Linked DNA regions of Homo sapiens. The protein of the gene in region 3 interacts with the protein of the main gene of each other region in a biochemical or structural test. Each region holds a gene or a part of one and is shown on either strand. Other genes may lie near its edges. The genes, in order: PTPN11, PTPN6 and PECAM1.

What was found.
Region 1: the proteins of PECAM1 (region 3) and PTPN11 form a complex in vitro, tested with the Homo sapiens proteins (4 studies listed by BioGRID, with this or other methods).
Region 2: the proteins of PECAM1 (region 3) and PTPN6 form a complex in vitro, tested with the Homo sapiens proteins (2 studies listed by BioGRID, with this or other methods).

The regions. Positions count from the first base shown.
Region 1 is NC_000012.12:112,505,899-112,509,646, forward strand, and holds part of PTPN11 (tyrosine-protein phosphatase non-receptor type 11), read left to right. Parts: 3' UTR 1-3,748. UniProt on the Homo sapiens protein: Acts downstream of various receptor and cytoplasmic protein tyrosine kinases to participate in the signal transduction from the cell surface to the nucleus. Positively regulates MAPK signal transduction pathway. Dephosphorylates GAB1, ARHGAP35 and EGFR.
Region 2 is NC_000012.12:6,949,257-6,953,004, reverse strand, and holds the start of PTPN6 (tyrosine-protein phosphatase non-receptor type 6), read right to left. Parts: upstream 1,650-3,748; 5' UTR 1,493-1,649; coding exon 1,485-1,492; intron 1,397-1,484; coding exon 1,274-1,396; intron 1,023-1,273; coding exon 828-1,022; intron 1-827. UniProt on the Homo sapiens protein: Tyrosine phosphatase enzyme that plays important roles in controlling immune signaling pathways and fundamental physiological processes such as hematopoiesis.
Region 3 is NC_000017.11:64,384,209-64,387,956, reverse strand, and holds part of PECAM1 (platelet endothelial cell adhesion molecule precursor), read left to right. Parts: intron 1-3,748. UniProt on the Homo sapiens protein: Cell adhesion molecule which is required for leukocyte transendothelial migration (TEM) under most inflammatory conditions.

The DNA.
Region 1 (3,748 bases), on a different chromosome or scaffold from region 3:
TTTGGAAGGCTTGCAATGTGGTTGACTACCTTTTGATAAGCAAAATTTGAAACCATTTAAAGACCACTGTATTTTAACTCAACAATACCTGCTTCCCAATTACTCATTTCCTCAGATAAGAAGAAATCATCTCTACAATGTAGACAACATTATATTTTATAGAATTTGTTTGAAATTGAGGAAGCAGTTAAATTGTGCGCTGTATTTTGCAGATTATGGGGATTCAAATTCTAGTAATAGGCTTTTTTATTTTTATTTTTATACCCTTAACCAGTTTAATTTTTTTTTTCCTCATTGTTGGGGATGATGAGAAGAAATGATTTGGGAAAATTAAGTAACAACGACCTAGAAAAGTGAGAACAATCTCATTTACCATCATGTATCCAGTAGTGGATAATTCATTTTGATGGCTTCTATTTTTGGCCAAATGAGAATTAAGCCAGTGCCTGAGACTGTCAGAAGTTGACCTTTGCACTGGCATTAAAGAGTCATAGAAAAAGAATCATGGATATTTATGAATTAAGGTAAGAGGTGTGGCTTTTTTTTTTTTCTTTTTTCCAGCCGTTGACCAATTATAGTTCGGCTGTTGACTGAGAAGTTTGTGGTGGGAAAACGTTTGCCATATTTTCTTTGCATTTGAATAATTGTCTTGTACTTAGAAAAAAGGCGTCTATGAATGACCAGTGTTTTTGGTCGCCAAATGTTGCTGACAAACTTATCCCAAAACTTTAGTGGCTTAAAAAAACCTGCCCCCAACTGTTAGTCAATCTGAGCTGGGCTCAGCTGGGCTGTTCTTCTGCCAGCCTGCAGGTGGCCACTCATGTGGTCAGCAGGTCGGCGGAGAGACTGGGATGGCTGGGCTTCTCTCTCTGCCTGCAGTCCTGAGTCTCTCCTTCTTCGTGTAGTCTCTTTCAGTGGCCTGGCTGGCAGGGTAGCTAGACCTCTCACATGCAGCTCAGAGCTCCCAAGAGCTCAAAAGCAGAAATGGCCAGGCCTTCTGAAAACTTAAGTCCAGAATTGTCACAGTGTCCCTTCTACTTCCCTCTATTGATGATGATGATGATGATGATGATGATGATGATGATGATGATGATGGTTTTTTCTAATCAGAAGAAAGCTGGGGTATGCCCTCTACTTACTAAACAAGTCACAAGCCCAGCTCAGATTCAAGAAAAGGGTGTGAAGTAGAGGTGCAGTTAAGTGGGGGGCCACTAGTCTAACAGACGGTCACAACCAGTGCCATGGAAAACCAAGGATATTAGCAAAAGCAGAAGTTGCTAGTGACCTTGGGAAGCCGAAGCTGCTTACAGTAGCTGGGACAAGCTGAAAGTCAGACTAAGAAATAAAGAGAGGGCCTTCAAGAAGCTTCCTGAATGATTTCTGCTAGCCCTGAGCCTATTTTTGGAACCAGCACTTGGGGAAACTGATCTTGTGAGGATGGATGTGTTTAGGGACACAGGGCTTTTGAGAGCAGCACCACCCCACTGGGGCATCCCCAGACTTGGGAAACGTGACTCTTTCTTAATGCCACTGGGTTTTAGTCAGGCCACAGTGAGAAGGAACAGCCCTAACAGGCCTCCAGCCAGGTTGAATGAGCTCATTTTTGTTGTAGCCAACCAGTAAGATTTGCTAATGTTCTACATTAAGTGCCTTCTCCAAAGACATCCCTCTTTGCCTCATATGTTGAATCATCCAGTGCGGATATTTCAATGAAAATATCATTGGTTGACTTTTGTGATGGTAATAATGCTATGGCATCTTTGCCATGAAGTTGTGGCCTCCTTGGATTCTTCTGACTTTGGCTTCTGAAAGGAAGGCCTAGATCCAGCCCTGGTGGTAGTTCCTTTCTGAGGTCTCTCAGTCCCTTGAGACTTTGGGGTAGTTTGGCTGCCATTCTCACTGACAAAATGTATATCAGCCCCCACCTCCACCCCCCAATATTCCTTGAACTTTGAATTGCTTCAGAACACAGGTGTGGCCTGAAGGTATTCCCTTATTAGGGAAGTGTCACTGCTGTCTTCTAGTCAAACTTGTAAAGAAAAAGATTCCAGTTCAGTATTTGCAGCAAGAAGCTTGAATGCTGTTCTTTTTATCGCATTGTTACATCGACTCATTCTCCATTTTGCTTTGGTTTTGTCTTGACTTGACTTGACTTTGGGGGTAAAGTCTTTCACCAGCACACAAGAGTTTGATTGTACAAATATATCTTCTGCATTAACATCTCTGCCTGTTGCTTAAGATCAGTTGCTTTTATACTCAGAATGGAAATACCTGATCTTGGCTAGTTTTGTTATAAGATATTGATTTCATTTAGATTTCCCTCCACGAGGTCAGCAAACTATCATGTTCTTATGTAAACTTAGGCCAAGGCCAGAGTTATCATAGTCCCTAGGTTGCTACGGCTTATCATGTGCTTGGTAAAAGGTGATCGCAGGTTCTCAGACGAGTTTACTTTACATGAGATGGAATCAGGCAGAGAGGCTGGGATGATGGAGAAAGCTCGAGGTGAAGTTTTAAAAAAAAAGTTGTGGAAAGGAAAGTTCCAAAGAGGTGGTTTCTGAGGAAGTCAGAGCGCCCAGGGCCAGAGCAGTCAGTAATGGGTGAATGAGGTTGTTTGGAAAGTCGGTGTGACAGACACATGGATGCCATCTACTTCTAGGTTGCTGGTGGGTATTAAATATGCACAATATTCCATAGCTCACTGAGGATTTTAAAATTATAAGCATAGGATTTTATATTTTGGGGTGAAAGAATTATCTGGCACATTAGGTATTGGAGTTTAAAAAAAAAGCCAAATTTCACAGTCTTAATAACTTTTTTTAAAAAAAACTAAAAGGCGCTTCATGTCCAGTGTGTGGCCCTTCTGAAACTTATGGTCATCTCTCCCACTGAAACCAAGGTCTTTTCAAATGTGGCTAAATGGGGATGAGGAGACACGGGTAGGACTTTCTTGGTGTGTGTGCATTCTTTAAAGAGCCAAGTTGCTTCGGGGAAACAGCCAGGAAAATGGTCAAGATTATTTTTAGAGGTTATTTTATTGGGGATTTTAAGAACTAATAACATCTTGAGTTATTTTTAATTCAGGGGGATGTGGAAAGGTTTGCAATTGTCAAGTGTTTTGTTGTAGCTTAGTATCCATAAGGGAAACTTAGACTATAGACATAACTACAAAGCCAGTGCAGCTTTTGTTTTCTGTATGTTGTTGGGGGATCAACTTTCACACATAGCAAGCACATGGCCTCCCTGATGTCAGGATGCCTTTGTTAGGATCTGTATTTGCCCTTAATTTTGTTGAAATCTTTTTTCCTTCTTCCTCTTGAAAAGTTCCAAAATATAGTTTATTGTATCTTTCATCACTAAAAATTTGTTCCTTTTTCACTATGGGCAGTTCACACAAGGCAAAAACTATTGAACAGTTGGTTTTAGTGTGTTGTATAACTTTGCTGTATATCAAACTAATTTTGACAAGTTTTCATCCTAAGCCTCAAATCATGTAATTAATAATTTGCCTGTTTATTTATGACCTAATTGTGATTCTTTTATTAATAAAAGCTAATGGGAAAAGGATCCCTGATTAAGCTGATGACTAGACCTACAATTAATTTTCCTGCAGTATATGAAGTATTGTACCAGAGTATTAAAAGATATGTAATATTTTATTGATAAATCTATCCTTTAAAAGGAATACGTTTTAGGATGTCATCATTTTGATGTGAATCATGTAAATGTTGATAATATGCTGTTTATT
Region 2 (3,748 bases), on a different chromosome or scaffold from region 3:
GGATCCACGGCAAGGGCAAGTCGGCTTGGCCCAGGGGTGCATGTGAAAACCCCCTAGCGTTATTCCGCTGCCCTTTACTCTAAGGGGATCTGGCATTGAGATGCGGCTGCTGAAAGGAGCCATGGTGTCATGAGGAGCATTCAGAGCCCCCAGCCCCCAGCCCATGCCTTTGGGAGACCACAGGAGGAGTCGGGGAGGCCACAGGAAGGAAATGCCTGGAGTATTACTCTGTGCCCGGGACAGCGTGAGACACTTTACACAGGTGAACACTTCACATCGTGCTCTCAATGATCTCTGTTTGGGCCGGAGACCTATTTGACCCCACAGGACAGACCCATCCCCACGGGGCGGCTGGGACAAGGCATCAAGTGTCTTGGCAAGCATTCATCCCCATCTTCACCCCAGTGTCAGCTCCTCACTGTCCTAACATGTGCTGGGGTGAGGGGCAGACGGAGGAAGGCAGGCTCGATTCCAGAGGAAGAAGAGCTTTCTAACAACAGAGCTGGCCTGCACGACATGCTGGCCACCAGCAGTGGCCTCCCTGTCTCCAGTGGGACCTGGGTTGCAGCGGCCAGGGCTCCCGGAGTAGGGCGAGGCAGCTTTCTGTGGCTTCCTCGGGGTTAGGTGGAAAGGGTGGTAGGTTAGGCTCTGAGACACCAGGTCCCAGGACAGCAGGGAGGAGGGACATTGAGAGCCCCAGCTGGTGCAGGGAGGGGAGGGGATGGAGGGTAGGCAGCGCCGGCTGCCAGTCTCCCTGCCTCCCTGGCTGTTCAGGGTGGGAGCCGGCTCATCCCTGCTTGGGAATGGCGGGGGTGCGGAGCCCTCACCTCTCACTAGTGGGATCGGAGCAGTTCAGCGGGTACTTGAGGTGGATGATGGTGCCGTCGCGGTCCTGCAGGACACCCTGCTGCTGAGTGTAGTACTCCACCAGCTCTGTCAGAGTCGCAAACTTCTCCCCTCCATACAGGTCATAGAAATCCCCTGAGTTCTGGATCCGAATATGGGTCACCTGATCCCCCACCCTGCAGGGCACCAGGCGGTGAGGCCAGTCGGTGCAGGAGTAGAGGCAGGAGGGCAGGGATCGGCTGAGGTCCTGGGTGGGGGCACACATGGGCATGGGTGGGCACAGACAGGGATGGGGAGTGTGGGGGTTGGGGGCAAGGGAACAGACGGGGAGTCAGCACTGCCACGGGGAACCAGGAATGAGTGGTTCAGGGCCTGGATGGCACAAGAGAGTGGCCAAAATGCCCGGGGTTGCGGGGGGCCCACCTACCTGACGGAGAGCGAGAAGTCACCCTGGTTCTTGCGACTGGGCCGAGCCAGGAAGCTACCGTGGACACCTCGGCCCTTGAGCAGGGTCTCTGCATCCAGCCCACTGAGGTCTCGGTGAAACCACCTGGGCGGCCCAGGCAGGGCAGTGAGGAGGGGTCCCGTGGGCACCAGGCACCCTTGCCTCCTGTCTACCGTGGGTGGCAGGCCCTTACCTCACCATCCTGGGGGCTTCCGGAGAGGAAGGGGGCGCAGGGAATGAGGAGGTGCAGCTAGTCTGGGCAGGCAGAGAGCTCAGGGACTAAGCCTCAGATGCAGCTCCCAGTGCCGGGCCGCCTCACCACCCCCGGTGGTCCCAGTTCTGGGGCTGCCACTCCACTGGCCTGGGGCAGCCGGCAGGGCGGGGACAGGAAGAGGCGCGGCCGACCCCTTGGGGGAACTCACTTGTACTTCTCGTTTTAGAGCACAGCAAGGGAAGAGAAGCAGAGCAGGGTGGCACTGGGGGTGGGGACGGGGCCCACTTCCCACACGTCTGCAATCAAAGGCTCAGGAGCATGGCATTGCACATATGTGACAACACATGCAGTAAGGACACATGTGTGCCTTGCACACTCCAGGCCCAGATAATACTTCACGCATGCGAACCCAGACGGTCCCACGGCATCTCTCCCTCCTCCACCAGCTGCTTTTACGCAGCCCTCCCTGGCCCACGCTAATAACAATGATGGCGGTGACAACTGTCATCGAGTGAGTCCTGCTGGATGCCGGGCGCTGTGCTATAATGGCGTTCACATGCCTTGTCTGATTGGTTTCTCACCACAGCCCTATGAAACAGGGGCTATCTTTATCATTTTACAGACAAGGAACCTGAGGCTCAGGGAGTTTAAGGCATTGCCTGAGTCCATCAGTGAGTCAGCTGCAGTGCCAGGATTCAAACCCAGACAGTCCGGTTCCAAAGCCAGTGCTTTGAACTCCTATACACCAGCCCTCAGGGCTTCAAAGAACAGAGATTAAGAGCCTCCTTGTCCAAAGGGGCTGCCATGGGAGCAGGAGACTAATAGTTAAGACCTTGCCAATGCTTGCAAGAGAGAAGGGTGCCCTCCTCTAACCAACATATGCAGTTTGTCCATGCCACTGTGGCAGAGGGATGGACAACATGACCCTGAGCAGCCCTGTCAACATGGGTCCTTTCTAATTCTTGTCCCTAGGCCTCTGCCCTGCCCCAGCACTCCCACCAGGGGGCCTATCTCCTGGGGGGCTGGGGGACAAGGTCCTCACCATGGCTGATTTTCTCAGGGCTGGTTGATCTTAGAGGCCCTAAACACTAAGGTATATGATGCTGCCTACCTGTAATTCCAAATACAAACATCAACACCGCCAAACCAAAACGAGGAAAAGCAGCTCAACAGGGGATACATAAGAAACACATATTGGTGGCTTCCCCTAGGGAGGGAAACTGGGTGGCTGGAGGACAGGGCTGGGGGAGACACTTGGTTCTCTACATACCTTTTTGAATGTTATATGATGGGCATGCATTACCTTTATAAAAATAAATATGCTAACTGGGAACAATTTCTGGGAAACTTTTAGGGTACAGGGAAGGCTCTTTGTCTCTATCTGGATGCTGTTTGCATGGGTGTGTATAAACGTGAAGTTGGCCGGGCGCAGTGGCTCACGCCTGTAATCCCAGCACTTTGGGAGGCCAAGGCTGGCGGATCACGAGGTCAGGAGATCGAGACCAGCCTGGCCAACATAGTGAAACCCCAACTCTACTAAAAATACAAAGATTAGCCGGGTGTGGTGGCACATGCCTGTAATCCCAGCTTCTCAGGAGGTGGAGGTTGCAGTGAGCCGAGATCATGCCACCGCACTCCAGCCTGGGCAACAGAGTGAAACTCCGTCTCAAAAAAAAAAAAATTAAAAACCATACAGATCAAGATCAATGGTGATACAAGAAGATAGGCAGTCTGGAAGCGCAAACAAGGCAAAATAATCTGTAGAAAGTTCTGGAACTGCTCTGAGCCTCAGAATCCCCGCCTGACAAATGAGCTTAACAATATTTCCCAAATACTGATGTGAAAAGCTGGTAAGTGGCAGGGTTTCAGTGCTGCCAGCTTTTACATTATACTATTAATCCTCAGGCCAACCCTACTTAGTAGGTGTTATTCACCCAATTTTAGAAACAGAAACTAAGACTCAGAGATGTTAAGTAATTGCCCAAGGTCACAAGCTAGTGAGTAGGAAGGTGGGTAAAACACGGCTGTCAGACGCCGGAGCCTGGTGCCCTTTCCCCCAACAACCATACTGCAGCAGACAGCGTCGGGGGCAGATGGGATGGGCACTGCCACAGCCCATGATGGAAGGTGGAGGAAGAAGTGCTCCCCCAGAGGCAACATGGGTCAGGGCAAAGAGGTGGCACGCACAGAGTCCACATGGGCAGTGCCTGGCCGTGAGCAAGCCATGTGGCTGGAGCAAAGTT
Region 3 (3,748 bases):
GGTCTCCATTCCTTAGGCCCCCTAGGCCAGCATTTGCAGTGCGTGGCCTGCAGGCTTGCTCTGAGTCTCCCGCTCTGCGGCTGGGGTCCTGGGACAGCCTCGGCCCTTTCCCTTCCTTCCATCTCAGGCCTCTTTGTTCCCCTCCAGCCCGCACCTCACTGCAGCTGCCTCACCTCAGGAGGTGACGGCTGCTCCATCTTCACCTAGAAAACAGTCATCTGGAGGGAACTCCCTCAACTTCCCGCCTGGGCCTGGCTGCAGGCTTATCAGCCTCTCCACCCATCCTCTCGGTTTCCCTCCCGGCCTCGGAGGACACATGCACCCTGCTCCTCAGCTGATGGGGGCCAGCCAGGCACTTAGGCTGAGACCCTTCCTCACCCCCAGGACCCCACGCCTACGTGCATTCAAGTCCCTCTCCCCTACCACCACTTCTAGAATCTCTATTTCTGCTTCTGGCTCTGTTCTCTCAGTGAATGGGAACTCTTTTTTTAGGAAAAAGAAAAATCACAAGCAGACACCCACCCCCACCGTTTATCTGGTGTCCCCCTATCTGGCCTTTCTAGTTTCCTTTCTCAGTCGAACCTCTCTGAAAGTTAGTTTATAATCTGTGCCTACCCACCTCACCTCTCAGACACGCCTCGCCTCCCAGCAGCCTGGCCTCAGGCCCCACTTCTCCGGCTGTTGGGTCTCCTCTTGCTGAGGGGTCACCAAGGACCACCTGATGCCAAATGCAACGGACACTTCCAGCCCTCGGCTCCCTGTACCCCTTTCCTGCCTTTGACTTTTGATCGTGCCCCAAAGCCTCGCTCCTTGACCTTTTCCATCCTCTTCCCTGCTTTGTCTCCTCACTCTCTAACAAACCCTCTTCCTTCTCCCCCATGGCTGACTTTGGACTTACTTTGTCTTCTCCTGGAGTCTGAACCCTGTCCTGGTCTCTGCGGGCTCCTGGTCTTATCCTCCCTGGAGACCAGCTCCCCTCTCAACACCTCCACATTCCCCCCTCCTCCCCTAAGTTCACACTCCTCCCACCTTCACAGTCCAGCCCTGGCCTCTGCCCTGAGCCTCCAGTTAACACAGGCTGACCTTTGATGTCTCCTCCCAGTCCTCCTACTGGCCCCTCACACGCAGCTGCACCACCATCACTTTGTCTTCCTTCCTTATCTTTTTCTGTTTGTTTGTTTGTTTTTGTAGAGACTGGGGTCTCATTTTGTTGCCCAGGCTGGTCTCAAACTCCTGGGCTGAAGCCATCCTCCTGCCTCGGCCTCCGAAAGTGCTGGGATAACAGATATGAGCCACCACACCCAGCTGCGTGTGGCATTTTCTATTTTAGTTTGGTGGCACACACATCCTCCTGGGAATCTAATCCAGGAAGTTTATCTTCCATTCTTTCAACCCCATATCCAATCAAACAAAGTCTTTTTTTAAATTGTGGTAAAATACAAATAATATAACATTTATTATTAATGACATTTAGTACATTCACGGTGTTGTGCAACCATCACCATTGTCTAATTCTAGAACATATTCTTTCTTTTTCTTTTTTTTTTTTTTTTGACAGAGTCTCACTCTTGTTGCCCAGGCTGGAGTGCAGTGGTTGGATCTCAGCTCACTGCAACCTTCACCTCCCAGATTCAAGCAATTCTCCTGCCTCACCCTCCTGAGTAGCTGCAATTACAGGCACGAACCACCATGCCCGGCTAATTTTTGTATTTTTAGTAGAGACAAGGTTTTGCCATGTTGGCCAGGCTATTCTCAAACTCCTGACCTTAAGTGATCCACCTGTCTTGGCCTCCCGAAGTGCTGGGATTCATTCTAGAACATTTTCAACACCCCAGAAACAAGTCCTGTTGAGTCCACTCAGGAGATCCCCAGCCTATCCTTCCCTCATCCCCACTGCACCCGCCTAGCTCAGGCCTCATCAGCTTTCACCTGAACCACTTCCAAGCTGTTTACTGGCCTTGGGTGCTGTCACACCCCTCCTGACACCCTCAGGACAGGGCCCAGCTTGTCAGCACAGCAGGCCAGCCCTCCATTCTGGCACGACAGACCCAGCCACCTGGCCTCTCTAGCCCCACACTCTGGTTTCTGTAATGGGCCATGCCCAGAAGGCACGGATTTCTCACACCCTCGTGTCCTGGGACACGCTGTTCTCTTACCTGGAGTACCCCACTGCCTGTCCTTGGCCTGGCAGGCTCAGTTCAGTGGTCACTTCCTTCAGACTCCTTGACCTCTCCTGGGCAGCCCTTCCTCTTGGTGCTTACTGATATCACTGGAGTCCAGCTATGTGGGCCCCAGCAACCTTTGCTGTTTGGGACAGCAAGGATGATTTCTTACTTACTCTGTCAGCCCAGCACCTGGCACAGGTTCTCGACACATGTCTCATTGGATGGGAACTTGAACTGAACTTGGAGATGCTTGAGATTCGGGTAGGAAGATGGCTCAGCATGCTCTCTGATGAGCACAGAAGTTCATCAGGGACTCTATGCTTCGTGGCTCCCAGTAATTTTCCTGACGAGGGTGGGCAGCCCCTCCTTCTCCTGCACCCTCCACTTTCTCTCTGAGTCATTTCCAGGTTGAGGGCCAGGGGGCTGGCTGACTGATGGTGCCGCATGTTTCCAGGGAGCACCACCATCCACTGATGAGTGGCCTTGAGGTCAAGGTCCCACTGTTTTTAGCATGTTGGGGTTTGGCACTGTGGTCACTGGCTGTTCCGTGGTGACTTTCCAAATTTAGATCCTTCTCCGTCAACCTTCATCTCCCCGGGTTGAAAAGATCTGACCTCTTTAGGCTGTCCCACAGCCCCACCCTTCATCACAATAGTCCTGAAACTTTTTGGGTTCAGTAAGGAAATCTGTGGGCCTTCTCTCCAGAAAAAGCACACATTTGCACACAATTGGAGGTAGTTGATGAGCCTCCTAACACCCACCCATGCACCTCCCAGGGGCTGTGTCCCCCAGGTTGTGAACAGTCACTCTGTGTAAATAGTGAGACCTACAGGCAGTAATTCAGTTTGGCTGTGCTTGGCTGGTTTATTTAGAAAGATGATAATGTTTTCCATATTATCAAAACAAGAATCAGGCAGAGACTTTTGAAGTTTGGTTGCGTGGTATATTTGTTACCTATTGCTGCATAACAATTTACCTAAAACTTACTGGCTTAAGATAACACAGATTTATTATCCTGAAGTTTCTGAGGGTCAGGAATGCAGGAGTGGCTGAGTTGGGTGGTGCTGGCACCGGGTCTCATTAGATTGCAGATAAATTGTTGGTCAGGGTTGCGGTTATCTGAAGGCTTGACTGAGTCTGGGGAATCTGCTTCCAAGCTCACTCCTGTGGCTATGGGCTGGAGGCCTTAGTTCCTCATCCTGGGTACCTTCCACAGGGCTGCTTATGCTATGACTGCTGGCATTCCCCAGAATGAGGGATCCCAGACAGGAGAGAGAGTGATCAGGATAAAAGCTGCATTGTCTTTTATTACCTGATGGAGTATTTTGTTGGTTAATGTTAACGTGGGAGGTGACCACGTGTAAGTGTGATGAGCAGAGGGCAAGGACCATTGGGGGGGGCATCTTGAAGGGCTTCTATAGCAAGGGAGGTGGTGGTGGTTGTGGCGGTAAAAACTAGGTCACTGTTTTTGTTGTTTTGTCGATGATATTTGTGTTAAGATGAAGAGCTGAGACTCATATCTCAACAGAGTTTATAAAATGCTTTTCTTTTTTCCATCCTGCCCTCTCTTCTCCCTTGTCTGT